Homo sapiens: one gene and its partners. The protein of the gene in region 6 purifies or fractionates together with the protein of the main gene of each other region. This does not show direct contact. Each region holds a gene or a part of one and is shown on either strand. Other genes may lie near its edges.

Evidence for each region.
Region 1: the proteins of SLC44A4 (region 6) and CLPTM1 purify together in Homo sapiens (affinity purification with mass spectrometry; one large-scale study listed by BioGRID and IntAct). This does not show direct contact.
Region 2: the proteins of SLC44A4 (region 6) and TMX4 purify together in Homo sapiens (affinity purification with mass spectrometry; one large-scale study listed by BioGRID and IntAct). This does not show direct contact.
Region 3: the proteins of SLC44A4 (region 6) and NCAM1 purify together in Homo sapiens (affinity purification with mass spectrometry; one large-scale study listed by BioGRID and IntAct). This does not show direct contact.
Region 4: the proteins of SLC44A4 (region 6) and SLMAP purify together in Homo sapiens (affinity purification with mass spectrometry; one large-scale study listed by BioGRID and IntAct). This does not show direct contact.
Region 5: the proteins of SLC44A4 (region 6) and ECD purify together in Homo sapiens (affinity purification with mass spectrometry; one large-scale study listed by BioGRID and IntAct). This does not show direct contact.
Region 7: the proteins of SLC44A4 (region 6) and HAT1 purify together in Homo sapiens (affinity purification with mass spectrometry; one large-scale study listed by BioGRID and IntAct). This does not show direct contact.

What each region holds. Positions count from the first base shown.
Region 1 is NC_000019.10:44,982,485-44,986,677, forward strand, and holds part of CLPTM1 (putative lipid scramblase CLPTM1), read left to right. Parts: intron 1-2,733; coding exon 2,734-2,819; intron 2,820-3,970; coding exon 3,971-4,091; intron 4,092-4,193. UniProt on the Homo sapiens protein: Involved in GABAergic but not glutamatergic transmission. Binds and traps GABAA receptors in the endoplasmic reticulum (ER).
Region 2 is NC_000020.11:7,995,522-7,999,714, forward strand, and holds part of TMX4 (thioredoxin-related transmembrane protein 4 precursor), read right to left. Parts: intron 551-4,193; coding exon 505-550; intron 1-504.
Region 3 is NC_000011.10:113,205,390-113,209,582, forward strand, and holds part of NCAM1 (neural cell adhesion molecule 1 isoform 2 precursor), read left to right. Parts: intron 1-133; coding exon 134-277; intron 278-653; coding exon 654-791; intron 792-1,871; coding exon 1,872-1,989; intron 1,990-2,443; coding exon 2,444-2,613; intron 2,614-4,193.
Region 4 is NC_000003.12:57,909,655-57,913,847, forward strand, and holds part of SLMAP (sarcolemmal membrane-associated protein), read left to right. Parts: intron 1-2,232; exon of another isoform or gene 2,233-2,267; intron 2,268-2,484; coding exon of another isoform or gene 2,485-2,537; exon of another isoform or gene 2,538-2,726; coding exon 2,727-3,047; intron 3,048-3,503; coding exon 3,504-3,621; coding exon of another isoform or gene 3,622-3,688; exon of another isoform or gene 3,689-3,958; intron 3,959-4,193. UniProt on the Homo sapiens protein: Associates with the striatin-interacting phosphatase and kinase (STRIPAK) core complex, forming the extended (SIKE1:SLMAP)STRIPAK complex.
Region 5 is NC_000010.11:73,150,604-73,154,796, forward strand, and holds part of ECD (protein ecdysoneless homolog), read right to left. Parts: intron 3,846-4,193; coding exon 3,653-3,845; intron 1,819-3,652; coding exon 1,690-1,818; intron 1,103-1,689; exon of another isoform or gene 1-1,102. UniProt on the Homo sapiens protein: Regulator of p53/TP53 stability and function. Inhibits MDM2-mediated degradation of p53/TP53 possibly by cooperating in part with TXNIP. May be involved transcriptional regulation. In vitro has intrinsic transactivation activity enhanced by EP300.
Region 6 is NC_000006.12:31,868,700-31,872,892, forward strand, and holds part of SLC44A4 (choline transporter-like protein 4), read right to left. Parts: intron 2,863-4,193; coding exon 2,775-2,862; intron 2,699-2,774; coding exon 2,615-2,698; intron 2,349-2,614; coding exon 2,113-2,348; intron 2,004-2,112; coding exon 1,904-2,003; intron 939-1,903; coding exon 846-938; intron 559-845; coding exon 456-558; intron 1-455. UniProt on the Homo sapiens protein: Choline transporter that plays a role in the choline-acetylcholine system and is required to the efferent innervation of hair cells in the olivocochlear bundle for the maintenance of physiological function of outer hair cells and the protection of hair cells from acoustic injury.
Region 7 is NC_000002.12:171,928,758-171,932,950, forward strand, and holds part of HAT1 (histone acetyltransferase type B catalytic subunit), read left to right. Parts: intron 1-4,193. UniProt on the Homo sapiens protein: Histone acetyltransferase that plays a role in different biological processes including cell cycle progression, glucose metabolism, histone production or DNA damage repair. Coordinates histone production and acetylation via H4 promoter binding.

The DNA of each region.
Region 1 (4,193 bases), on a different chromosome or scaffold from region 6:
CCAAGAAAGGGGGGCTTTTTCCTCCCCACAGGAGCCAGGTCCATCTGGTCTGGATGCCTCCAAGCTGCAGAATGTGTTCTTTGCCTGAGCCAAAGCCTCTCTCCCCTGTGCCTCCCCCTCCACCAGCCAGCGCTGCCCTCTGGGGCTCTCCCTTCCCTGGACAGTCTCTGTCAGGTGTGGACACGATTGGGGCATGTCCCCCTGGAATTTTCTCCAAGTCAACCCTTGAGTGTTGGTTTCTCCCCCTGGACACAGGAGGAAGATCCCCAATGATTTAATAATCATAGAAATGATGAGGATTGGCCAGGTGGCTCAAGCCTGTAGTCCCAGCAATTTGAGAGGCCGAGGCAGGTGGATCACTTGAGGTTAGAATTTGAGACCAGCCTGGCCAACATGGTTAAACTCCGTCTCTACTAAAAATACAAAAATTGCTGGTCATGGTGGTGGATGCCTGTAATCCCGGCTACTCGGGAGGCTGAGGCAGGAGAATTGCTTGAACCTAGGAGGCAGAGGTTACAGTGAGCTGAAGTCATGCCACTGCTCTCTAGCCTGGGCAACAGAGTGAGACTCCATCTCAAAAAAAAAAAAAAAATGAGGATGACGTTTCTGCTAATAAGCAGTAGGCCCTGGGCCAAGAAGTGGTGAGGCTTTTCTTCCTTCTTTAGGGAAGTGACATCACTCACCAGCATCCCTTAGCTTGTAGGATTCAGAGCCAAGATTGCCCCCAGAGCCCCCGCTGTTGGCCAGGTCTCTTTCCCCTTTCCCTGTCTCTCCCTGGCCCCAGGGGACAGGATAGAGACTTGAGGGAGGGCAGACTGAGTTTTCCTTCATAGCATAAGGAAGAGCTGAAAAGTCCCCGGGCTCAGTGGCTCACGCCTGTCATCCCAGCACTTTGGGAGACTGAGGTGGGCAGATCACGAGGCCAGGAGATTGAGACCAGCCTGGGCAACATGGTGACACCCTGTCTCTACTAAAAATACAAAATTAGCCGGGCGTGGTGGTACACGCCTGTAGTCCCAGCTACCCAGGAGGCTGAGGTGGGAGAATAGCTGGAACCTGGGAGTCGGAGGTTGCAGTGAGCCAAGATCACACCACTGCACTGCAGCTTGGATGACAGAGCGAGACTCTGTCTCAAAAAAAAAAAAAAAAAAAAAAAAAAAAGAAAAGAAAAAAGAAAAATACTTAGCTTCTTTTCGGGCCAGGTGCGGCAGCTCACACCTGTAATCCCAGCACTTTGGGAGGCCAAGGTGGGCAGATCACGAGATCAGGAGATTGAGACAATCCTGGCTAACACAGTGAAACCCTGTCTTTACTAAAAATACAAAAAATTAGCAGAGCCTGGTGGCACACGCCTGTAATCCCAGCTACTTGAGAGGCTGAGGCAGGAGAATTGCTTGAACCCAGGAGGCGGAGGTTGCAGTGAGCCGAGATTGTGCCACTGCACTCCAGCCTGGGTGACAGAGCGAGACTCTGTCTCCAGAAAAAAAACAGAAACGTCCCCAGGCCAGGGCAGAGGTTGGGAGATGGAGCGTGGGCACGCACAAGCCCCTTCCTCCCCGGCAGCATTTGGGACAACATGGCAGGGGGCCTGTGGCCAACTGGGCCTCTGCGAGAGGAAGTGAGGCCAACTCCTGGCTGGGGATTCACAGCCTCAAAGTGTTTCTCATCTTGGTTTCTCATGTTGGTGGCTTCAGGCCTTTTTTGGAACCGTCTGCTGCCTCTTTATAGTCATGTATTCAACTGGTCATCACCGAGCCTGTGCAGGCGCCCCATGTGTATTCAAACAGGCCCTGCCCCTACCCGCATTTCCGCACAGAGTTTGCAGACTGGTTGCAGGGACAGACAGCAGGCAGGTAAACCACTGGCTAAGTGGTTTTGGATAGTGGTGAAATGTTGTGAAGGAAACAAGCTGGCAGGAGAATGACTGCATAGGCTCATTCAGTGGGGTGGCCAGGGAAGCCCTGTGGAAGAAGGACATTCTGCCAGGGACTTGAATGCCACGGAGGAGCCAGGCCACGAAGATTGTGTCAGGGCATGGGTTCCTGGGACACGGGGCAGCACGCCTGAAGGCCCCGGGTTGGCATGTTTGAGAAGTGGAAGGTGGTGAGGGTTGAGAGGTCACCGGGGCTACGGTGAGTGTCTGGGGTTCCAAAGCTGCGGGATGCCATGATCAGTCACTTGTTTTTATTTATTTGTTTGTTTGTTTTCTTTTTCTTTTTGAAACGGAGTTTCGCTCTTGTTGCCCAGGCTGGAGTGCAACAGTGCGATCTCAGCTTCCTGTAACCTCCACCTCCCTAGTTCAAGCGATTCTCCTGCCTCAGCCTTCCGAGTAGCTGGGATTACAGGCACCCGCCACCACATCCGGCTGATTTTTGTATTTTTATTAGAGACGGGGGGTTTCACCATGCTGGCCAGGCTGGTCTCTAACTCCTGACCTCAGGGGATCTGCCCGCCCCAGCCTCCCAAAGTGCTGGGATTACAGTGCCCTACTGAGCTGGGGTTTCTGCCTGGGGCATTTGGTGATGGTGGCGTCCCCATGATCATGAGGAACTGGGATTCGTTGAGATTTGGGGAGGCAGTTCTGGCATTCCAGGTCACATTGATCTCAGCAGGTGAGTGCAAGGTGGATGCCAGGAGACCGTGAGCCGTTGCTGGTGGGCAGGGGTCCGGGCTCTGGAGGCTGCAGGTGCCAGCAGGTCTCACGTCCCCTCCTTTCCCACCTCCCAACCACAGTGATCAACAAATACAAGCGCAGACGATTTCAGAAAACCAAGAACCTGCTGACAGGAGAGACAGAAGCGGACCCAGAAATGATCAAGGTAAATGGGCAGGGTTGTCAGGGCCTATAGGGACCAAGCCAGGCCATTCACAGCTCATCCCAGACCACTGGGGCTGTCATCTGTCACCACCACTGAACCACCATGCCGGCTCGGTCATGCCACCTCCCCTCCCTGAGCACTGGGCTCCTCCTCTGGGAAATGGGGTCAGGAGGCAGCTGTCTCTCAGGGAGTGAGGAGGATCCCAGACAAGGTTACCTGAGCCTCTTGCCAGCCTGGGAGGGGTCTACATCACAGTCCCATTGTCACATGAGGACACTTGCTCAGTCTCAGCCGGAAGTGGCAGGCCAGGGACTCTCACCCACACAGCCAGGCCCCAGAGCCCAAGCTCAGCCTGGCTCCAAGCACACACACGAGAATATGGCTTTAGTAGGAACTGCAGGATTCATAGTTGCTGTCACTCCCAGTGGGCTGGGGAGCCGGGCAGTTAATCTGTGGTTAACCTGCAGTGGGCACTAAGAGACTTCCTCTCTCTGCGGGTGGTCCTGTGTTGGGGGGGTGGTCCCTGCTCATGGAGCTGAGGCCACCGTGCAAGAGTGTGTGGAGCCTGCTGTCATGAGGCTGGGCTTCGCAGCCTGGCCTAGGATGCCAGCCCTGCCTCTACCTCTACCTCGGTTTTCTACATGTGGGGTGGGAGGATCCTGTCGGTGGCCGGAAGGGTCCTGGGTGGCGGAATCTCTAAGCCTAGGGAGGAGAGCCTTCTGCCAGCAGTTGCTGTGGTGGCTGATATTCTGCTGCCAGGGTTGTCAGGGGAGATGGCTCATGCCTGTTTTCCCAGCATTTTGGGAGGCCGAAGCAGAAGGATCACTTGAGCCCGGAAGTTCAAGATCAGCCCAGGCAGCATAGTGAGACCCCATCTCTTCCAAAAAAGAGAAAAAAGAAAGAAAGAAAAGAAGCTGTCCATGGTGGCTCACGCCTCTAATCCCAGCACTTTGGGAGGCCGAGGTGGGAGGATCGTGCTTGAGCCCAGAATTCGAGACCAGCTTGGGCAGCATAGTGAGACCCCATCTCAGAAAAAAAAGAAAGCAAAGATTAAGATTTTCTCGGGAACCCTGGGGAGGAAGTGTACAGAGAGTGATAGTCCCCGAGCACTTCCACCTGCCTCTGAGGTCCTTCCCCCCATGTTGCCTCAGAGGGCTGAGGACTATGGGCCTGTGGAGGTGATCTCCCATTGGCACCCCAACATCACCATCAACATCGTGGACGACCACACGCCGTGGGTGAAGGGCAGTGTGCCCCCTCCCCTGGATCAATGTAAGCTCCCCAGCCCTGCCAGCTGCCTGCAGAGCCTTTGAGAGGGTGCTCGGGGTCCATCTCCTTGTCTTCTCCTGGCCCTGTCCCCCTGAGAGAGCTTTC
Region 2 (4,193 bases), on a different chromosome or scaffold from region 6:
TCTGTGTCTGTCACAACTATTCAACTGTACCATTGTAGCATGAAAGCAGTCATAGACAATAGGTAATGAATAAATGTAGCTGTCTTCCAGTAAAATTTTATTTACAAAAACAGGTAGCCCATCCACAGGCTAGAGTTTGTTAATCCCTGACATACAGAACTACTTTCAGTCTTAGACAATCTTTCCTTTGTAGGGAGATATGCCTACAAAGAAATACATAAGATAAAGTAAAATCACATAAGCCGTTTTGCTTGGATGAAAGACTTCACCACTGATTTAAGAAAATAAGACCTCGACACAGTAGTTACAGGTTACTGTTCAGATTATGCCCTTCTACATGACGACATTACCACTGGAAACCCCACATGAGAGTAGTTGCATGGCTTAAGAAAAAAAGTGAAATTATAAATGTACTTATAAATGTTTGTTTTCCTATTGCTTAAAAGCTGTATTTTTATTCTTAACCTCTCTGCAAATATAAACGTTTTATTTAAGATTACTTACCCATATCTTGCCAGAGATGCTAAAAAGACCAGCCATTCCAGACATCCTTAAAAAAAAATAAAGAGAAGAAACAGTGATCATATATACTATAAAAAAAAAATGAAAATCAGGTCAGGAGGACTGGTCTATTTCCCTCCACTTCTTGCTAAATATTGCCCCCTCTCCCAGATTCATATCTGTTCTTACAGAGCTTAGATTCAGTGGCTATCATTTGAATCACTCTGCTGTAAATCTATTCCAACTCCTTGGCCCTTTCTCCTTTCATTGTGCCTACCCGGCAAAAATCTCAACACTGAGCAGCTGAATGTCTCCAGGGAAAAAACATCACATAACCAGATGACAGTTCTTTCTGCTTCATAGTCCCAAACCTAAGTGGACACGTAATACTGTCCAGCACTTTCTAAGCTCTAAGAAAATAGCTCATTTCCTTTTCCTTCTCTTCAAAACGTACACATCTTCCCATCCCCATGTACTCAGCTAACAAGCACTCCTCATATGTCACTGTGAAATCAGAAGCCACCATGTGCTTTCTCTCATCTTCCCACTACCAAATCTGAGCCTGGTGTCCACCTGCATCCACCTTCTCTTGTTATGACAGGAAAAGTCTAACTCTCTTATCACAGTCCAATTCCTCCACTTGTGCCTTGGATCCTATCCATTTTGTCTTATTAGGACTTGGTTCTTTCTCTCATCCTCCCTTCCTGCACGAGCAACTTCTCTCTCTCTCCTAGAACAGTCTCACTGGCATATGAACATGCTCTACTCTCTTTTACCCTTTAAAAAGAGTATCCCTGGACCTCACATGACCCTCCAGCTTCACAGATAAATTTCTCCAGATTACTCTACACATGCTGTTTCTTCTCTACTGTACCTTTAATCGATTAAAATCTGGCTTCCACCCTCACCACTACAGGAACAGATTGTCAAGGCCATGATGACCTCACCATGTTTCATTCAATGTCCATGTCTCAGACCTGATCTCCCTTCGCCTCTTAGTAACATGGGATACAAGAGACTACGCCCTTCTTCTTGAACACTCATTTGGCTTCTGGAAAATGGCAGACCTTGGTTTTCATGTTGCCTCTCTGGTACTCATTTTCAGTTTCCTTTGGCTGACTTCTCAACACAGTTTCTTAATTTGGGGGTGGCCCATGACTCATCCCCAAGTACTCTTCTCTTTTTCCTTCTTTCTAGGTGTTCCCCTCACCTCAACATTGTCTGTAGGTTTTTTTGTGTTCCTGAATTCTTCATGGGGACCCATTTCCATGCATCTGATATGCTTTGAATCTGTATCCCCACCCAAATCGTATGTTCAATTTGTGAGATATGATAAGGTTTCCCTTCAAATAGCCTAATCAATCTTTTAATTCAGAGTTAACCACCCCCTCTTTTTTTCCTTTTTCCTTTCTGCCTTTGTTAAATGCGCAGGCATGCCACAATACCAGCCATTATCAGTACCAACTCACATTCCTTTCCTTATTTAAAAAAAAAAAAACAACTTTCTGACTCACTACAGACACCCTTTCCCCTTTCCTCTTTCTTCTATGTGCCCACCTTATCTAAAAAAATTCAAATGTTTAGCCAACTAAAATTAGTTTATACACCTGACCCCAGCCAATAAAAAAAGGATACAGGGGCAAGACTTGCGTCAAAAATAAAGGCTCTCGTACTCCTTTGTTCAAGTGTGCTCTCATGGCGACTGGCCAAAAAGGCACCTCTCTGCGCAAAAATAAAATTGCTTTGCTAAATATCCTTTGTTCAAGTGTTCAATTTCTTAAAATTGTAAGCATTATTCCTAACAAATTGTAATCCCTAATGCTGGAGGTGGGGTCTGGTGGAAAGAGAGTGGATCATGGGGGCGGATTCTCATGAATAGTTTAGCACCATCCACTTGGTGCTATTCTCTTGATAATGAGTGATCTCTCAGGAGATTTGGTTGTTTAACAGTGTGTGGCACCTCCATCCTTCTCTCTTGCTCCTACTCTGGCCATGTGATGTTATGTGCTTCCCCTTCGCCTTCCACCATGATTATAAGTTTCCTGAAGCCTCCCCAGAAGCCAAGCAGATGCCAGCATCATCCTTCCTGTACAGCCTGTAGAACCATGAGCCAATTAAACATCTTTTCTTTATAAATTACCCAGTCTCAAGTATTCCTTTATAGCAATGCAAGAATGGACTAATACAGCATCCACTGTGACAGTTCTACAAAGTCTGCATCTCAAACCCAACAAGATTTATACAGAATCCTTAATTTTCTCTTGCCCAAGGCAATAACAAGTACCAAGATCCATCATGTACTCAAACCAGAAACTTGTAAGTTTTTATTAATGAATCCTTCTTCTCCTTCACCTTGGCCAAGCCTACCTTCATAACATATTTAAAATCCACTCAGCCTCTCCATCCCCACATCCCCACTGCTGCCACCTGACACAAGCTACCACTCTAAGCCTCAACTCACTTCATCCATTCTTGCCCTCTCCAATCTCCTCTCCTAAGGGTCACCTTCTCCTTGTGTGTGCTGATCACTTCCAACTTCTTTCCTGTGGCCACAGGCCCTGCATGACCTGGCTTCAGCCTGCCCCTCTTACTCAGCTCATCCTACATTCCCTTTCACTATGCTTGACCCTGGTCACCATTCTGCTCCTTAAGTACACCAAGCTCCTTTCCAAACTGGGGCTTATGCATATGCCATACCCATTCCTGGGAATAATCTTCCCTCTGCTCTTTGCCTAAGCTAGTTCCTTCTATCATTCAGATCTCACCTAGAGGCGTCCCTTCAGAGAAATGTCTCCTACTCCCTCCATCTAGAAGAGCAGGTCCATAACCCCAGAGCTATCCCATCTTTGTAAAATATGTTGTTGTGTTTTTTATCCACCCTCATCCCAACTATGATTCTCTGTACCTGAGGTGAATGTCTGTCTTGTTCAGTGTTGAATACCTAGCACCTAGGAAAGTATCTGGCTAAATCAGTGCTCAAATGGTTGTAGAATGAAATGTGAGAGTTGTTTTTAGAGTAAGCTATGTGTTTCCTTAATATTAATATAGATGCCACTAGATGATTTACTCCTGAAATATTGCTTGATTTGCTCCTTTTTCAGTAGGGAAATTTCTTACACTTGTATATACTAACATAAAATTATCTATATATATGACAATCCATTCAAAACTAAAACCAACTGTGGAAAAAGCTGTTATGGTTTGGCCTAATCTACCTCACCAAGTATTATACAGTTTGCCGTCAAGGCCAAAGCTATCCCCTGTGGTATTTTGCGAGGCAGCCAAAGACTCCACAGGTTTTGTTTTCCACATAATATATAATAGCAATTCCTTCATAAACTATAATTCAATAAACAGTTATTCCTCTGTCTCATCAATAACTTAAAAGGAAGAAAGAATGGTAAATGATGTTCAATACCATATTTTGTAAAGAGAAAAATAGTCATTGTGGCTTAGTGTAAAAGCTGGAAAAGAGGCGTTCTGTAACCCACTCAAATCTGGCTACTTAATTCCCAGTATACTAAAAACCAGCTGAAACATATGTAGGTCACAAAATCAGAAATACTGCATGGGCTAAGCATGGCCATGAGTAATCTGGGTAATTGGAAGTAAATGTGAAGTAAAACATAGGCTTTTTTGAGACCCACAGGCTATTAACTTAAAACCTCCTGTTTTATTAGTAACACCTTGTC
Region 3 (4,193 bases), on a different chromosome or scaffold from region 6:
TGCCCCTCTTATACAACTGTACATCAGGATCGAGACTTGCCCAGGACTCAAGTCCAGGTACCATGGCTCTAGTGAAAGGGGTTCTTTGTGAGAGAAGCAGCTGTTTTCCCTCACTCTTCTGTTCATCTTCCAGAGAAGCTCATGTTCAAGAATGCGCCAACCCCACAGGAGTTCCGGGAGGGGGAAGATGCCGTGATTGTGTGTGATGTGGTCAGCTCCCTCCCACCAACCATCATCTGGAAACACAAAGGCCGAGATGTCATCCTGAAAAAAGATGGTGAGACCTGAATTTCCTGGCATCTGCCTTTTCCCCAGGCCACCAAGTTCCCTAGCTTTTTCACCTGTACTGAGGCATTCCAGTCCAAACTCCAATTCATGTGTGCCCGAACCCTCATGTGGTTTCTGGGTCCTGAATAGATGCATATCTGAAGTTGGTATACTTAGGTACCTGATTTTCTCTCCAGTACGAAAGACAAATTTCTAATAGACATTTACTCTTGGCTGTATTTCAAAGCCAGGGACGCATTTTCTTATTTGGGCTTAAAACCCCACCCTATGATACTGAAGTTAGGAAAAAGGAAAGAGACTCAGCCACCTGCCTGCAGATGCTCTCTGACTGATTCTTGGATGAACCTGCCTCTTATCTCTTCTAGTCCGATTCATAGTCCTGTCCAACAACTACCTGCAGATCCGGGGCATCAAGAAAACAGATGAGGGCACTTATCGCTGTGAGGGCAGAATCCTGGCACGGGGGGAGATCAACTTCAAGGACATTCAGGTCATTGTGAATGGTGAGGAGAGTCCGTTCTTCCTGATCTCTGCATTGCTACAACCTTGGTTCTCCAAAATCATTCTCTTTAACTTCCTCTTGGGTCTGTAAATTAAATCCTGTCCTGACTCAATCATCCGTCTGAGCTAAATCCCCTCCCCACCGTAACATCTAGATTTCTTTTTTTTTTTTTTTTTAATATACTTGCCTGTTGGATCTTCCTTCAACTACGAGGGATTTTAGTGCAGCAACTGAATGTCCTTCACCGTTCTGCAGCACTAAAAACTTTCCCCCTGCTTACCTATTAATCCTCATTGTCCTTGATGTTACCATAATTGTGAAGTTATTCCGCTGCTTAAATGTTCAAAGAAAGTATTAAGTCAACTCAGGCCTCAGAATAGTCAGAATCATGGTCCATAGGCTTGTTAATCTTAACTTGCAGTGTCAAATAAACACACCCATGGAATTGATCTGACATTTACAAGATGTTTACAGGAAATTATAATGTCAGTACTAAGAAAATAAGTAAATCAGGGTTGAATTGTTTTGACTATTGACACATATTTTTTTTGCCAAACTCTCCCCATCTCATTCCTTTGGTAAAAAACAGTTTTGTACAAGGTTGTTTATCACAGTCCCAGAGAAATGGCACTCTTTGTTATAGCTGATGCATTCGAATTGGTGTTAACCATTTAACCACTGGGAGCAGTAATGTCCAACTTTTTCCAGTACAAAGAGCTCCTTTTTAACATCAAGTTTCACTGAACCTGGTAGTTATTAAGTTTAGTATGCATTGACTGAGAAAATACATAATGAAGAATAGTGACTATAAATTGAATACCATCTTAACATGCATAAAATGTATTACTATAGCTTCTCAATTAATGAAAAACAAAAATGCATGTTTGTAGAACTGTCTATTCAGTTTGCAGAAGTTATTTAGTACATACATGAATTTCAATTCCTGACACTAACTCTGTAGCTGCACACGACGTTTGTCCCACAGGCTGAGAACTCCTGACCTGGAGTGGTGTCTCTTCTCCAGGCCATTGGGTTCTTCCAAATTTTCACAACCACCCCATGACACCCTTTTTTCCTTCAGTGCCACCTACCATCCAGGCCAGGCAGAATATTGTGAATGCCACCGCCAACCTCGGCCAGTCCGTCACCCTGGTGTGCGATGCCGAAGGCTTCCCAGAGCCCACCATGAGCTGGACAAAGTAAGAAACTGGCTCATACCTTTTATCATGGACTAGAGGAGAATGGGGCATCACAAAGTCTGCTCCATGTTAGTGTCTGCGTGGAATGGATGTGGGCTTCTTAGGAATATTAACCCCAGGAGAAGAATGGACTCTTTTCTATAAGATTCTCTTGCTTGTGCATTGATTATTCCTTCAATTTCAGCCTTGTGGGGGCAGAGTCAGAGCCAGAGGGTGTGGTCTTGGGAGCCCACTTTGAAACATTTGTGGGTACAGTTGCAGCCCTTGGATAGTCAGAGGATGGAATAGAGGAATAAGAGGTGTATGTGGACGTTCAACTTGGTGCCTTAACTTTTTGTGAAGACTGAGGAGTCTTTCCCATTGACTCAGTCTGCATTCTATGGAACCTAATTAAAAATAAACGTCTTATTTCTGTGGTCGAAATCATGCTACTTTGCATTTCTACATGCTCTAGGGATGGGGAACAGATAGAGCAAGAGGAAGACGATGAGAAGTACATCTTCAGCGACGATAGTTCCCAGCTGACCATCAAAAAGGTGGATAAGAACGACGAGGCTGAGTACATCTGCATTGCTGAGAACAAGGCTGGCGAGCAGGATGCGACCATCCACCTCAAAGTCTTTGGTAGGGGCAGTGGGGGCCCAGGTCACTGCTCTGCCACAATTCCCCTTCCTCTGCACATTCAGTCCATCAGTAAGACCCTGGCCACTGTCCCTCAGAACATAACCCAATGCAACCATTTCTTGCCAGTTCCACCACCTAGTCCAAGCCCTAGTCCAAGCCACCATCATCCTCACCTGAGCAGTGGGACGGTCTCATAGCTGGCCTCCCCGACTCTCCCTATTGGTCCACTTCATTCACTTCTGCTCACAGTAGTCAGAATGACCTAAGTACCACTCATCTGTTTGAAAGCCTCCAGTGGCTCCCTATGGCAACCAGAATAAAATTCAGACTCCCTGCAATGGCCTACAAGACCAGAGATGAACTAGCTCCTGCCTTCTTCTCCAGCCTCATCTTTCTTTCGCTTTGCTGCACATGCAAAGTTCTCCAACCACACAGGCCTTCTTCATGTCCCTCAGACATACCAAGCTTGTTCTTCATCTCAGGATCACTGCCCTAGGTTTCTCTTCTGCTTGGAATATCTTTCCCTCTGATCCACTCTGAGCTGCCTTCTTCTGATCCACCATTCAGATCTTAACTCAAACTCACCTTCTCAGCGGCGCCTTCCTTCACTGCCCTGGCTAATTCAACTCCCTCTGCACTGCGACCACCCCCACCCACCTCCACTCATCTCTCTCTCGTGACTCTTACTGTATCTTCTTTGCTGTACTTAACAGTACCTGAACAGATGTCATTTGCATATTTGTTTTGGGGATTGTCTGTCTCCTACCTCTACTAGTGTGTAAACTTCAAGATAGCATAACCCTGGCTGTCATACACGGCGTTATCCCTGTGACTCCAAACAGTGCCAGACTTGGCATAGGCCCTTGGTAACTTTAGTGGTCGATGGGCTGGCTGCTTTGCCTTGTTTGCCTCCTTCCCTGACCTGTGCAAAACAGTGTCATGGAAGAGCCCCCACATCCCTGCTCACTTCATCTTCATAAACTCAGGAAACTTCCATTCATTTCAGAACTGAAAAGCATTTTGACCTGATCTTGAAAAAAGAATTGGTTGCAGAGAAACGTTTAACCTAATGGCCCTCAAGTCTCTCCGCGTGTCTGTTTAGAAAACACAGATAAACTGGTCTACTGTAGACAGCACTGGGGAAGTGCCAGTCTGAGGCGCAGCTCTGGTGCATGGAGCCCCCAGGTCATTAAAATGTGCACCTGGGAATCAGGGTTGGGACCTGCTTATCCAGCCTGATAAGGAGAACTGTTCATAAACACAGACCTTTGAAAATCAAGACTTTATATGCAAATGTCCTGCTAGTTATTCAGTAGTAAACAGCTGGGTTTAGAAACAGGCTATCAGTTAGGTTCAAGTTAACCGTACGTATTTGAGAGAGAAAGCTAAACTTCATGAAAAATATTCTTGAAAGTCTTTTCTTGAATTCAGACTGATCTTCCCCAATCACTATGGTTTTAGTAAGTTTTTCCATATTGTAGAAAAAGATAGATGCATTTGTTAATTAATCCCTTCATTTAATAAATACGTATGGATCACCATTGTTGCTGGACAGAGGGGCTACAGAGATGAATAGGATA
Region 4 (4,193 bases), on a different chromosome or scaffold from region 6:
CAGGCTGGAGTACAATGGCGCGGTCTCACCTTACTGCAACCTCCGCCTCCCAGGTTCAAGCAATTCTCCTGCCTCAGCCTCCTGAGTAGCTGGGATTACAGGCATGCGCCACCACACCCAGCTAATTTTGTATTTTTAGTAGAGATGGGGTTTCTCCATGTTGGTCAGGCTGATCTCAAACTCCCAACCTCAGGTGATCCACCAATCTTGGCCTCCCAAAGTGCTGGGATTACAGGTGTGAGCCACTGCGCCTGGCCTATTTTTTTTTTTTTTTTAAAGAAAATTCAAGGGAAGATTGTCCAGTACTCTCGTATTAGACACTTAGAATGGAAAAAGCAGAGGTGAAGATTTGGAGTTGGTAAGACTGTCACTTTCTGAGTTATGTCGTGAGTTCCTACAGAGGGCCTTTGGATAGGAAATCTGTTTGAGCTACTCTGCGTCAGCACTTTGAGCTTGCTGGTATATGTATATATTGATGGCTGGTGTAGATATATTGCCATCTAATGCTCAGAACACACTTGTATTGCAAGAAAATATTTTTTTGCTTGTTTTTTTGAGACATAGTCTTGCTCTGTTGCCCAGGCTGGAGTGCAGTGGTGATCTTGGCTCACTACAACCTCCGTCTCCCGAGTTCAAGTGATTCTGGAGCCTCCCAAGTAGCTGGGACTACAGGTGCATGCCACCATGCCCAGCTAATTTTTGTATTTTTAGCAGAGATGGGGTTTCACTATATTGGCCAGGCTGGTCTCAAACTCCTGACCTCGTGATCCACCCACCTTGGCCTCCCAAAGTGCAGAGATTACAGGCATGAGCCACTGCACCTGGCCTCAAGAAAAATTATATATCACGTGGAATAGGATAGTAGTCTCTGCACTGATTTTCGTTGATAATGGCTGTTCTTCTTATCACCATTTTGCTATTTCTTTGTCTGGGCTATTACAGGGTTATTACAGAAATTTCCAGAAAGACCCCTGCCTGTCGAATGTTTACTTCAAGCTTGAGCTCCTGGTATATTATGAGGAAATTATATGATACCCCAGGAGAGGTCTTCCTTTCCCATGCCATTGTAAAATTCCTAAAGTAAAATTAATTTGCCTTCTTGTCAAAGAAGGAGCCAATGTTGTTTTAAAATTTTAGCTTGAGAGATAGGTGGGGAAGAAATTAAATAGACAAGTAATCACTATTCAGAAGAGAAGGGAGAGTCATTGTACGAGGCCCAAGATACTTGCCCAAAAATATCGCAGAGAAAAACTAGTCTTTGGGGTCCTATTTTTTGAGTGGAACATTTGAGTTATTTAAAATTAGAATTTTATTTTGGTCAGATTAGAATTTCTAGGGTATGTCATATGTGTTTTTAAATTGAAAGCTCTTAAAACTCCTATTGTAGTTTAATGTCATTATCCATTAATTTACATAAATCTGATTTGGATCTCTATTTTCATCGTAGACTGTGTAGGGGCAATTTTTCCTAAAGGTTCTGTGACATAGTGCTACCTTTTTTTTAAAACCTGTCTTGCCCAGGCATTATTGAGTGCCCCCTGGTGCCAGCATGTGTATTTCACGACTGTATCAACAAATCATGATCATCTTCTCTGGCCATTGTGCCCTTTCAGATTCCAAACTTGTTACCTCTCAGTCCTTCCTACAAACTTAGAAAGTCTAATATCTTAATGTTTACTTATGTAGCAACCTCCCTTTCTCCCATCCCTAAATCCTCTTGTAATTAATTATTTTCCTTTGGAACTTTTTAAATCTACAATTTCCTTATAATATGGTAACCAATATTAATTTTCTTGTTCTGCGCCAAGTTTGATTTTATACAAATTGTTTCCAGTTTGGGTCATGAGCACAAAACCAGGTATTTTTAAAAATCTATATAACCCTTCAATGAGGCAGTATTAATTTTATTAACTCATTAATTCAACCAATAATTCTTGATTGTTTACTGTGTTAGATATTGGGGTATCCCCAATACCTGACAGCTGTGAGCAAAACAAATGCCCTACACACATGAGGTGTACAGTCCAGTAGAAAAGATAAACAATAAGCAAATTAATAGATAATATGATGTCCAATAAGGACTTCAAAGGAAAATAAAGCAGAGTAAAGAGCCAGAGAATGACAGTGAGCTGTTTTTCACATGAGTCATCAGAAAAGGCCTCTTTAAAGAATTGACATTTGAACAGAAAAACGAATCAAGGGCGTCAACTGTTTATTGCTTTTATTGCTTACCATTTGACCAAGCAATTCTACACATAGGATTCACCCTAAAAAAAAAAAAAAAAAAAAAAAAAAGGATTGTATATAGTGTTTAAACACTGAACAGCCTAAAATGTCAAAAATAAAGGGTTGGGCAAATAAGTTATATATACTATAACTATTTTTTTGTTGAAAGAGTTTCATCAACAGAAGGATAGGGAACACTGCATTTATTGTGATCACTCCCTATTTAATGTTTGTTTTTACATGTTTATAAATGCATAGGAAAAAATCCAGAAGGAATATCAGAAGTAATTTTCTGTGTGTTGGGGAGATGAAGATCACTTTGGTTTTTTTTTCCTCTTTGCTATCTGTATTTTGACGCTTTCTGCATCAAACGTGGATTGTTTATACACTTTAATCAAAAGCAACAGCTCTGACAACCCAGGTTATGCATTAGCTACAATCCTGTATGGATTATTCTTTTATTCTAATGGGCCAAGAAAATGATGGATATACTTTTGCAGCCCAATTGCAGAGGTTACACATCGATACTGAGAATCTCCGGGAGGAGAAGGACAGTGAAATCACAAGTACTAGAGATGAATTGCTTAGTGCCCGAGATGAAATTTTGCTCCTTCATCAAGCAGCAGCAAAGGTTGCCTCTGAGCGGGACACTGACATTGCTTCTTTACAAGAAGAGCTTAAGAAGGTGAGAGCTGAGCTTGAGCGGTGGCGGAAAGCAGCGTCTGAATATGAGAAAGAAATCACAAGTCTGCAAAACAGTTTTCAGCTTAGATGTCAACAGTGTGAGGACCAGCAGAGAGAAGAAGCAACAAGGTTGCAAGGTGAATAAATGTATTTTACATAAAGCTGTTAACTTTTGACAATGATAACTTCTTAACTTGTTTAAAAAAGAAACATGCAGGCTTTTTTTTTCTTTGTTAGCTATCAGTTGTATAAACCAATGTTTTTAAATCGGAGCTAAAAATGTATTTTCAGGTCTGCAAGTTCTACTTAAATTTATATTTTTTTACGGTTTTATATTTTATTTTAAAATTGTTAAAAATTGCTTGTCTTATAAAAGTGAAGTGGAAAAAAATACTATTGTTCAAGTACAAGCTGATAGCAGTCCTTGAGGTATACATGCAAAGTAACAGGAATCATATAATTAACCATGTAAAATCTACTTGCTTTTAAGGGGGCAAAAAGTATGTTCTCCTCTGAAATCTTTTCCTTTATCCTTTGAAGTATTATGGAAGTTATATTTCTGTATTAACAAATATGTTTTGGGACTATTTTAGGTGAACTAGAGAAGTTGAGAAAGGAATGGAATGCATTGGAAACCGAATGCCATTCTCTAAAAAGGGAAAATGTTTTGCTATCATCAGAACTGCAACGGCAAGAAAAAGAATTGCACAAGTATGCAAGAACTCTCTGTTTTTCAGATATAAAATATTTCTTTATCTTAAATTTTCATCTAAATTAAATTTAATTTTAATACTTAAATATTTTACAGGAGCAAATGTTCAGCCCATCTCTGTTTGGCTATTTGGCAGGTTAACCATACTGAATAAATACTTCAGCTTTTTTTTTTCCTGCCACCACCATTATCCTACATGTCCTTTCCTTGTACTCATGGAATACAGATTCATTAAATGTCCCAAAGAAACCCTGAACAAACAACAAAAGTCTGTAATTCATAGTTGAACTTGCCCTGTAAACTAATAAATTTCAAATATCAACTGCTTTTCTTTCACACCAGTGATCTCTTCTTTTAGTAAACGTGATCAGGAAGTGACTATAATGAAGAATTTGTAAGGCTGGGCGTGGTGGTTCACGCCTGTAATGCCATCACTTTGGGAGGCTGAGGTGGGAGGATCGCTTGAGCCTGAGAGTCCAAGATCAGCCTGGACAATGTGGCAAAACCCTGTCTCTACAAAAAAATACAAAAATTTACCGGGCATAGTGATGTGTGCTTGTAGTCTTGGCTA
Region 5 (4,193 bases), on a different chromosome or scaffold from region 6:
AAAATTTTTGCAATCTACTTATCTAACAAAGGGCTAATATCCAGAATCTACAAAGAACTTAAACAAATTTACAAGAAAAAAACAAACAACCCCATCAACAAGTGGGCAAAGGACATGAACAGACACTTCTCAAAAGAAGACATTTATGCAGCCAAAAGACACATGAAAAAATGCTCATCATCACTCGCCATCAGAGAAATGCAAATCAAAACCACAATGAGATGGTAATCTCACACCAGTTAGAATGGCGATCATTAAAAAGTCAGAGAACAACAGGTGCTGGAGAGGATGTGGAGAAATAGGAACACTTTTACACTGTTGGTGGGACTGTAAACTAGTTCAACCATTGTGGAAGTCAGTGTGGCGATTCCTCAGGGATCTAGAACTAGAAATACCATTTGACCCAGCCATCCCATTACTGGGTATATGCCCAAAGGATTATAAATCATGCTGCTATAAAGACACATGCACACGTATGTTCACTGTGGCACTATTCACAATAGCAAAGACTTGGAACCAACCCAAATGTCCAACAATGATAGACTGGATTAAGAAAATGTGGCACATATACACCATGGAATACTATGCAGCCATAAAAAATGATGAGTTCATGTCCTTTGTAGGGACATGGATGAAGCTGGAAACCATCACTCTCAGCAAACTATTGCAAGGACAAAAAACCAAACACCGCATGTTCTCACTCATAGGTGGGGAATTGAACAATGAGAACACACGGACACAGGAAGGCGAACATCACACACCGGGGCCTGTTGTGGGGTGGGGGGAGGGGGGAGGGACAGCATTAGGAGATATATCTAATATAAATGACGAGTTAATGGGTGCAGCACACCAACATGGCGCGTGTATACGTATGTAACAAACCTGCACGTTGTGCACATGTACCCTAAAACTTAAAGCATAATAATAAAAAAAAAAAGAAAATCTAGACATTCCTATCAATGTCTAGATTGTAACATTTTTGAAAGCAAACAAAAAAAAAAGAAAAACACTATTTTGTAGCTTTAAAGTGCATTTCTTTTATTATGAGTTAAGATTCAATATTTTTCATATGTTTAAATTAAAGGTCACCTGTATTTCCTTTTCTGTGGACTATGTTCATAGTTCTGAACATTTTAAAATTAATTGGCTAGTATTATCATTTTCATATTGACTTAAAGGAACACTTTATGTATTAGAGAAGTCAGCTCTTTTTCATTTAGATTGCAAATATAACACTTTTTCCAGATTTGCTTTTGACTTTATTTATGGAGTTTTTCTTTCCCGTGCAGAAATGCTTAATTTTTGCATAATCAAATTCATCAGTCTTCCCTTTATAGCTTCTGGTTTCAAGTCATGCATAGAAAGGCCTTTCCTATTCAAATTATAAAAGGTTCTTGGTTTTTTTTCAAATTGTATAGTTTCAATTTTTATGTTCAAATATTTGATCCAATTGGAATTTATTTTGGTATAGGTATTAGGGAATCAACTTCAATTTTTCAGATGACTTCAGACTTGTCCCATCATCACTTACTAAGTAATCCATTTTTTTCATTCTAATTTGAAATGCCACATTTTACTGCATTCTTACATAAACAGGGTGTATTTCTGGACTTTGTATATTGTGCCACTATTCTATTAAGAGTCCATTTACATAAAGAAAGGAAACAACATTTTCTGGTTCAACATTACCAATTTCATGCCCAATTCATGGGCTCGGTACTGGGGATCAGATGGAGGAGGCAGCCTGTATCCACTCCGCCGGTCTGGCACAAACCTTTGTTGCACCAATTGTGCATATAGACATTTAGTGAATGTGACCTGGGCATCAAGACACAAAATACATGAGTCTTTTCCTGAAATTAAGATTGTGAATAACACTTCACAGTTAAATATAATGAGAAGTCCATTTATAAGCTTCATATTCATATGAAATGCAAAGAAGATTCAACCTATTCATTGCCTACTTGTTTTTAGTAACAGCTTTATTGAGATACAACTCACATACCATAAAATTTACCCTACTGCTGGCCAGGCATGGTGGTTCATGCCTGTAATCCCAACACTTTGGGAGGCCAAGGTGGGCAGATCATCTGAGGTCAGGAGTTTGAGACCAGCCTGGCCAACATGGTGAAACCCCATCTCTACTAAAAATACAAAAATAAGCCAGGCATGGTGGCGCACGCCTCTAATCCCAGCTACTCGGGAGGCTGAAGCAGGAGAATTGCTTGAACCCGGGAGGTGGAGGAAGTTGCAGTGAGCTGAGATTGCTCCACTGCACTCCGGCCTGGGCAACAGAGCAAGACACTGTTGCAAAAAAAATTTTACCCTACTGCCTACTTTTTAGTAATCGCTAGTAAAATTCTTATCATTAGTTACATTATACAGCAATTAAATGGCTGGAAGATAAAGATAATTCATTTTTTCTATTTCTGAGACAGGGTCTTGCTCTGTTGCAGAGACTGGAGTGCAGTGAGCAATCATGGCTCACTGAAGCCTCAGGGATAGGGTTTCACCATGCTGGCCAGGCTGGTCTCAAACTCCTGACCTCAGGTGATCTGCCCACCTTGGCCTCCCAAACCTCCTGGGGTCAAGCAATCCTCCTACCTCAGCCTCCGAAGTAGCGGGGATTACAGGCGCCCACCACCACACCTAGCTAATTTTTTTATTTTTTGTAGCGATGGGGTTCACCATGTTGCCCAGTCTGGTCTCAAACACGTGGGTTCAAGTGATCCACCTGCCTTGGCCACCCAAAGTGCTGGGATTACAGGTGTGAGCCACCATGCCCGGCCAAGAATAATTCTTAATTCTCTGGAAGAGATGAAATGTTTTATTGTTAAGAAGGAAATAATTAGGCTGGGTGCGGTGGCTCACACCTGTAATCCCAGCACTTTGGGAGGCTGAGGTGGGTGAATCACTTGAGGTCAGGAGTTCGAGACCAGTCTGGCCAACATGGCGAAACACCATCTAAAAATAAAAAAATCAGCTGGGCGTGTTGGGAGGTGACTGTAATCCCAGCTACTCGGGAGGCAGGAGAATCGCTTGAGCCCAGGAAGCAGAGGTTGCAGTGAGCTGAGATGGCTCCACTACACTCCAGCCTGGGTGAGAGAGTGAGACTCTGTCTCAAAAAAAAAAAAAAAAAAAAAAAAGGAAATAATTATAGAAATAGAAACATATGGTCAAAAATAGCTATAAAACATTGAGTATAAAATGGGGAGGCAGGTCTCTTGAAAATTTCCTTCACTGGGTGCAAGAAAAGAAAAAACGTGTATAGTTTGAGCATCCCAAATGTAAATATCTGAAATCTAAAATGTTCCAAAATCCAAAACTTTTTGAGTCCCAACGATATGCTCAAAGTTTTGAGATTTCAGAATTTTCAGATTTGGGATGCTCAAGTAGTAAGTTTAATGCAAATATTCCAAAATCCAAATAAATCTGAAATCTGAAATACTTCTAGTCCCAAGCATTTCAGATAAGGAATATTCAATCTATATTAACATGCTATGAAGAAACAGAATATTTCCTTTTTTTTCTAGAGAACAATTAAAATAATGTTTCATTCACTGAGCACTGAGAAATGTAAAAAGAAAAAAATAATAATGTTTCAACTCGGTTTCCAGTAAGAGAAACTAAATGACCAAGATAGAAATCTCACCGATGTCATTATTCGTGTTTCAGGCAAGAATGTCTTGAAAACACGACAAGCTCGCAGGTCAATAGGGTCTCGTAGGTAAAATGCCTGGACTGCTGCAGCCACCAATCTGGGGCGCTGCTTTAGCACTGCCACAATGCCAGCTGGAAGGAAGCAGTGTGCTCGATGAAGTGAGGCCTGAATTTTTTCTGGGTACCTGGGACAGGTAACATAATTACTTTCATTTTACAGTATATAAATACCTATAATTCTTATACCATTCACATTCTTTTTGACATCTCTTTGTTCATCAAGAGCAGTACGTAGAGAGTGACAAGAGAGATGAAAAAAGATACTGTATATACACTTAAGAATATACGAGAGAGGGAAAGAAAAAAGTAGGAAGAAATGGAAAATAAAGAAAAGGGATTATTGTAGCTCTATAAAAACAAAACAACTTTGGGAGGCTGAGGCGGGTGGATCACGAGGTCAGGAGATTGAGGCCATCCTGGCTAACACGGTAAAACCCCATCTCTACTAAAAATACAAAAAATTAGCTGGGCGT
Region 6 (4,193 bases):
GTGGGAAGATTGCTTGAGCCTGGGGGATGGAGGTTGCAGTGAGCTGAGATTGCACTGCTGCACTCCAGCCTGGGCAACAGAGCAAGACCCTGTCTCAAAACAAACAAACAAACAAACAAACAAACAAACAAACAGGAGTAGGCTGAGACTCAGAGGGTGAAGTGGTTGATGGTCCTCAAGTCAGAGCAATGTCCTGGGGAGGGGTGGAGTAAGTCCTGGTATCCAGGGCTGTCTCTCCCAGCCTCAGTTTCCCTCCCCACATGATGGATGGCTCAACAGGAGTACCAGGTATTCTGGGAACTGGTTTCTTCTAGCTCTGCTGGGGGTTGAGTGTGTGACCTTGCACAAGTTTCTTGCCCTCTGTGGCCTCAGTCTTCTCTGCACAATGAGGAATGTGGCCCCTACAGCCCCTCACCCCTACTAGTCCCGCCTCCATGTCCCCTGCTTCCTCTTACCGTGGGGTTGCATGATGTATTTATTGGCACTTTCTCACAGCCGGGGGAGCTGATGTTGGATGCCCAGAGCACATACTGGGGTTGCCCCGATGTAGCCAGGTACCCAGAGGGGAGTCAAGGAAAGCATGATCACACGAGGTCTCCACAGGTCACTCGCTCCTTAGGGACCTGTTCCTAGGTGCTTGTGCAGATCGTTTGCTGCACAGAGAGGGCTGAAATTCAGCCTGTGTGCACCCTTTCAACTCTGTTCAGGCACAGTGCTGGTGTGTCTGCCCAGAGAAAGGGGCACCTCTTCCAGTGACACCAAGGCACTCTACAGGGCAAGTATTGCTTTGTTTTCCATCACCCCCCAGGACTCCAAGAGTGGCTGGCTGCGTGGGCAGAGGATACAGAGCAGTCATGGCCCAGTAGGCAATGCAGATGAGGAGGAGGACAAAGGTGACCAGTGGGTAGAACATGGTAGACATCATCTGTCCCACAGCCCTGCAGGGAGACAAAGCTGTTAACCGGCACCGCCCCAGCTGTCCATCTTCTCAAGGGGCTGACCCCGGCCGGGCGCAGTGGCTCACGCCTGTAATCCCAGCACTTTGGGAGGCTGAGGCGGGCGGATCACGAGGTCAGGAGATCGAGACCATGCTGGCTAACACGGTGAAACCCCATCTCTACTAAAAATACAAAAAATTAGCCGGGCATGGTGGCGGGCGCCTGTAGTGCCAGCTACTCCGGAGGCTGAGGCAGGAGAATGGCGTGAACCCGGGAGGCGGAGTTTGCAGTGAGCTGACATCGCACCACTGCACTCCAGCCTGGTCGACAGAGCGAGACTCCGTCTCAAAAAAAAAAAAAGGGGGGGGCTGACCCCTCTGCCCTCACTGGGGCCTGCCCCACTCCCCCAGGGTGGGACCAACAGGGTTAGTGACATTGTCTTTCATATCTGTGTCCTCAGGGCCTGGTGCAGGGCTAGGCATACTGTAGGTGCTCACTGGATAAACAGAACTGAATAAATCAGGCTCACAGGACCCTTAGAGGAAACTGGGGTCACAGAGAAGCCACCTGGGGCAGCTTCGGGTGGAGTAAGGGAAGATCACCCCCAAGCGTGATCCCTTGGCAGGTGTGTGTGGCAGTTCCTGATCGGGAGCAAGCTGCTGCCCCTCCTGGCCCGGATTCCTGCCGTTCCACTCAGCCACCACCACTCCCACCAACCCCTCTAGAAGGCCTATGTCATATTCCAGGCACTCATTGAATCCTCAAGACAACCCTAGAAGGCAGGAATTATTGTTACCCCCATTTTACAGATGGGGAAGCAAAGCCACAGCAGTGTTCACCACTGTGCTATATTCCTCCCTTCTCCTCTGAGGCTCCCTGCCACCTCTCTAGCACCCCCTAGGTCCCCTAGCACTCCTGGGTCCACGCTGTCCTCAACCCCATCTCCCTCCCAGGCAGGCCCTAACTTGCTGGCCTCCTTCAGGAGGGCGATGGCAATACGAATCCGCTGCCGCAGGAAGATGAGCATCAGCAGCAGGATGGCTTCAAGCACCGCCAACACGATCACTGCAGAGGACGGGGCAGACAGACCTAGGTCAGGGCCAGGGCTGGGGCCGGGCATGGCCCAGGGCGGTCCTTGGGCAGCTGGTGGCTTGGGGGTGGGCAGGACACTCACGGGCGGCCAGCCAGGTCTCCTGCACGCTCTGGTAGGCACTGAGGTTGGTGGTGAAACCCAGCTGGGAGATGGAGGCGCCCTTGTCCCGCAGCACTCGGTACTCCTCCCAGCAGTAGTAGATGCCGTATGCCAGCACGCCCAGCACTCCCAGGATCAGCACCAGCACCAGGGGCCCAGCCACCAGGCGCAGAAGCAAGATAAACAGTAGGCTCAAGACCAGAGCCACCCCCAGGGCACTGTAGGCAGGGTGAGGACAGTGAGGTTCAGCCCTAGCCCCTCAAATCTTTCCCCTTACAGAGGCCCTCCCTGCCTTTCCACACACCACCCAATGTCCCCAGATTAGGCCTCTTTCCCTTATAAATCCTGTTGGTCTTGGAATCCATTCGGAGCTCTGGCTCCTCCTCCTCTGTCCAAAGCCTGTGTTTCAGACATTGGGCGAGGGGGTAGAGGATCAGGGAGGAAGAAGGCAAGGACACAAGAGGAGGGGAATCTGGTGACTCACACAAGAATCCAATACCAGGACTGGGCAAAATCTTCAAAGATCTTAACACTGATGTCTCGGGCATTGAGGCTGTCAATAAGACCGCTGTTGGGGAGACAGAGTCAGATGGGGCTGTGGGTGGAAGGGGTGTGGCCAGGATGTGGGGGAGGGAGGTGCCTACCTGATCCCCTGCTGTATGGTGGTGTCATTGGTGATCCCTGGGAGCGCCGGTGGAGTAACGTTGGTCCATGGAAAGCAGCGCCCCAGAGCTGGAAGGGAGAGCCGGGCTGCTGGGTTGGGGGCCAGGAGCTCTGCCTGGAGGGTCTCTGGCCCCCTCCCAGTCCACAGTGCCCTTAGGGGAGGGAAGGGTGATGGGCCTTGCATCCCTCAGTGGGCTGCTTTTGATTTCACAAATGGGCTTCTGCCCTGTGGAGCCCAGTCTATCCCCTGCCTCCCCTCCCTGTCGTGCCTTGGTTTGGACCCTCCTCTCCGCTGGCCTCAACTCTTAGAACACCCTGTCACCCTTCCATCCACCCTCCACCCGAGTGGAGTGCCAGGGAGACCGTGGCACTGCCTGGACTTCATCACTCCAGGGTTCTGGGTCCCTTTGTGACTCAGACATCTCCAGAGGCTCTGCCCCAGAGACAGCATCCACACTCCCTGGCCAGGCTTCCAGGCTCTCCTGTGCAAATCCAGCCCATGTTCCCTTCTACTCTGTACCTTTGCTCTTACTGTGCCTCTCTCTCAGGGCTCTCTTTCCACCAGAAATCCCATCCATGACTCCCTGTTCAAATCCAGCTCCATCTCACCTCCTCCAGGAAGCCTTCTGACCTTATCCCCACCTCCTTTGGCAACTGTTATGTGCCTACAGAGCCACTTACTGCCATCCTTGCAACAACTTTGCCAGGCAGCCTTGCTTTGTCATTTATTTATCTATTTATTTATTTATTTTCTTATTTTTGAGTCAAGGTCTTGCTCTGTCACCCAGGCTAGAGTGCAGCTGCATGATCATAGCTTACTGCAACATTGAACTTCTGGGCTCAAGCGATCCTCCCCACTTAGCCTCCCAAGCAACTGGGACTATAGATGTGCACCACCACACTTGGCTAATTTTTAAATTTTTTGTACAGATGGGGTTTTGCTGTGTTGCCCAGGCTGGCCTCAAACTCCTGGGCTCAAGCAATCCTCCCACCTCAGCCCCCCAAAGTGTTGGGATTACAGGTGTGAGTCACCTCACCTAGCTTATTTATTTTTTAGAGGCAGGGTTTCTCACTCTATTGCCCAGGCTGGAGTGCAGTGGCACAATCATAGCTCACTGTAACCTCCAACTCCAGGACTCAAGTGATCCTCCCGCCTTAGCCTCCTGAGCAGTTGGGACTACAGGCATGAGCCACTGCACCTCACTGTCATTTACATTCTAAAGATGAGGAAACAAGGTTCAGAGAGGTTGCATAGTTGGGTCAAGACCATAGGGCTGGAAAGTGCTAGAATTTATATTCAGATCTACTTGACTTTGAAGTATTCACTTGAGATACTCCTTACTGTACTTAAATTGATAACTGGATATCTCATCTTATGCTATAAATTGTCTAATTTTTTT
Region 7 (4,193 bases), on a different chromosome or scaffold from region 6:
TTGGCCTCCCAAAGTGCTGGGATTACAGGCGTGAGCCACCGTGCCCGGCAGTTCATTCCTTTTTATTGCTGAATACTGTTCTGTTGTTGGATACATCATTATTCGCCAGTTAATAGATATTTGAGTTGTTTCTAGTTTTTGGCTGTTATTGTATGAGTTTTTTTGTGGACATATGATTTTATTTTGGATAAATTCCTAGCTGTGGATTTGCTGGGTCAATAGGGTATTTGTATGTTTAACTTTATGGGATACTTGGCCAGACTGACTTCCAAAGTACTTTTATACTCACATCAACAGTGTATTAGAATTTTCGTTATTCCATATCCTCACCAACATTTTATGTTGTCAGTTTTTAAAGTTTTAGGCATTCTACTGGGTTTATAGTAGTATTTCTTTGTTAATAGTACTTCATAGTGGTTGTAAAGATTAAATAGGTTTTAATTGTCTTTTCCCTCATAACTAATGCTATTAAGGATTGTTTTTTTAATGTGGTTATCGACTATCTCCTTTTGGACTCATGTATTCACATCTTTTGCCCATTTTAAAATTAGGTTATTTGTCTTTTTGTTATTAGTTGTAGGTGTTATTTACCTACATATTCTGGATGAGTCCTTTATGCAGATTACATGTTTTGTGCACATTTTTCTCTCAGTTTGTGGTTTGCCTGTTCATATTCTCAACTTTTTTTGTATAACTGGAAGTTTTTAGTTTTAATCATGTCCAGTTTATTAATTTTAAAAATTTCTATTAGTGTTTTCTGGTTCATGCCTAATATCTTTGTCTACCCCAAGGAGATCATGAAGCTCTCCTAATGTTTTCTTCTGGAAGGTTTTTAGTTTTAGCTTATTAAAATTATGTCCATGATCCATCTCATGTTATTTTTCATGTCCAATATGAGGAAAGGGATTAAGGTTTGTTGTTCCATGTGGATATCCACTTGTTTCAGTATAATTTGTGTGAATGCCTTGGTGCGTTTTTAACAAAAAAATATTGAACTTACACGTGTGGATCTACATCTGGACTTTTCTCATTCATTGTCTGTTTTTCTGTCAATATCGTACTGTCTGGATTAGTGTAACTTTCTATTGATTCCTGGTAGTGTGAGTCCCACATCTTTATTTTTTAAAGATTGTTTCGATTATTCTTGACCTTATTTCTGTATACATTTTGGAATCAGGTGGTTAATTTCTATTTAAAAAGTTCTGACTAATCTTAAGATTACATTGAATCTAAAATTGAATGTGGGGAGAATTGCTATCTTAATAACATTGAGCCTTCCAGTATATGAACATGATGTATTTCTGTATTCTAGAAATGTTTCAGGTTTTCAGTCTTGCATGTATTTTGTTAAATTTATCTGAGTAAATCTACATCTTTTGATTTTTGATGCTCTTAAAAATGGTATACTTTTTTATTTATTTATTTTTGTATGTGTGACATGTTCTCACTTTGTCACCGAGGATGGAGTGCAGTAGCGTGATCTCCACTCACTGCAACCTCTGCCTCCGAGCTCAAGTGATCCTCTTACCACAGCTTCCCGAGTAGCTGGGACTCCGCATACACCACCATGCCTGGCTAATTTTTGTATTTTTTGTAGAGACAGGGTTTCGCCTTGTTACCCAGACTGGTCTTGAACTTCTGGGTTCGAGTGATCTGCCCACCTAGGCCTCCCAAAGTGCTATTACAGATGTGAGCCACTGTGCCTGACCTAAAAATGATATACTTTAAACATTTTCTCTTCCAATTGCTTGTTTTATGTGTGTGCATGTGCATATGCATGGACACACAATGGCACAGTTTGTGTAATTGTTTTGTATTCTGCAACCTTGCTAAATTCACTTATTATTGTAGTTTTTTGTATTCTGGGCTTTTTCTGAGAGAGTGGCTCACTCCATTGCCAAGGCTGGAGTAGAGTGGCGTGATTGTGGCTCACTATAGCCTTGACTTCCCAGGCTCAAGCGAACCTCCCACCTCAGCCTCCTGAATAGCTGGGACTATAGGTGCGTGCCACCATGCTTGGCAAAATTTTTTTTTTTTTCTAGGGACAGGGCCTCACTATATTGCCCATGCTGGTCTTGAACTCCTGGGCTCAAGCAATCCTCTTGCCTCAGCTTCCCAAAGTGCTAGGGTTGCAGACATAAGCCACCACACCCAGCTATAGGATTTTTTTTTTTAGATGTAGATTATTTCAGATTTCCTGCACACAAACATTACCTGTTAATGAAGAAAGTCACAGTTTTTCTTTGCCTTATACAGTTGTCCATTGGTATCTTCAGGGATTTGGTTCCACGATCCCCCGTGAATACCAAAATCTGCCGATGATCCGGTCCATTATACAAAATGCCATAGTGTGGCTGGGCATGGTGGCTCACATCTGTAATCTAGCACTTTGGGAGGTTGAGGCAGGCAGATTGCTTGAGCCCAGGAGTTTGAGACCAGCCTGAGCAACATGGCAGAACCCCATCTCTACAAAAAATACAAGAATTAGCCAGGCATGATGGTGTGCATCTGTAGTTGCTACTCAGGAGGCTGAGGTGGGAGGATCTGCCTGAGCCCAAGAGTTCTAGGCTGCAGTGAGCTGTGATTGTGCCACTGCACTCCAGTGTGAGTGACAGAGTGAGACCCTGTCTTGATAGATAGATAGCCATATAGCCGGGCATGGTGGCTCACGCCTGTAATACCAGCACTTTGGGAGGCTGAGGCAAGAGTTCGAGAAGACAAGCCTGGTCAACATGGTGAAATTCCGTCTCTACTAAAAATACAAAAATTAGCTGGGCGTGATGGCACACACCTGTAATCCCAGCTACTTGGGAGGCTGAGGCAGGAGAATTGCTTGAGCCCAGGAGGTGGAGGTTGCAGTGAGCCGAGATTGTGCCACTGCACTCCAGCCTGGGCGACAAAGCAAGACTGTGTCTCGGGGGGGAAAAACAGCCATATAGTACAGTCAGCTCTTTGTATCTGCAGATTCTGTGTTTGAGGATTCAGCCAATCTCATGTTGATCCGTAATTGGTTGAATCAGTGGATGTGGAACCTGCATATGTGGAGAGCCACTTGTGTTTCATTTTCTTGCCTTACTGCACTGGCCAGAACCTCTATTACAATGTCAAATGGAAGTGATAGAGTAGACATCCTTGCCTTATTCCCAATTGAAGAAGGAAAATTTTGAGCCTTTCACCATTCACTATGATGTTAGCTGTAGGTTTTTCATATGTGCCCTTTATCAGGTTGAGGAAGTTTCCTTCTATTCCTAGTTTGGTGAGAGTTTTTATTATGAAAGTGTTACCTTCTAATGCTTTTTCTTTATCAAGATAATCATAAGATTTTTCTCCTTTAATTCTGATAATGTGGTGAATTACATTGATGAGGTTTTAAGTGTTAAATTAGCCTTGCATGCCAGTATATTATCCTTTTTCTGCTTTGCTAGATTTGACTTGGCAATGTTTTGTTAAGACTCTTTGTTCATGACAGGTAATGGTTTCTTTTTTCATACGTCTTTGCTTGATTTTGGTATCAAGGTTTCCTGGCCTCATAAAATGAGTTGGGAACTGTTTCTTCTCTATCTTCTGGAAGAATTTGTATAAGACTGCATTATTCCTTTAAATGTTCAGTAGCATTCACCAGTGAAGTTTTATGTGCCTTGAGTTTTCTTTGTTGGAAGGTTTTTAACTATACATCTAATAAATAGATTTAATACTGTTCTGATCTTCTGTTTCTTCTTGTGTCAGTTTTGGTGATTTTTGTCTTTTAAAGTATTTCTCTATTTTATCTAACTTTCTTGGCAGAAAGTTGCTTACAGTATTCCCCTGTTACCATTTAAATGACTGTAGAGCGAGGTGCAGTGGCTCAGACATGTAATCCCAGATCTTTGGGAGGCCAAGGCAGAAGGATCGCTTGAGCCCAAGAGTTCAAGGCCAGCCTGGGCAATATAATGAGATCTCAACAATAAAATAAAATTTAAAAATTAGCCAAGCATGGTGGCATGCACCCATAGTCCTAGCTACTTGGGAGGCTGAGGTGGGAGGATCACTTGAGCCGGAGAGGTGGAGGTTACAGTGAGCTGCGATCATCTCACTGCACTCCAGTCTGGGTGACAGAGCCAGACGCTGTCTCAAAAAATAAAATAAGTGACTCTAGAATCTATAATCCCTTCTTGGGGGTATTGGTAATTCTTTTTCTCTTTGTCTTTTAATGT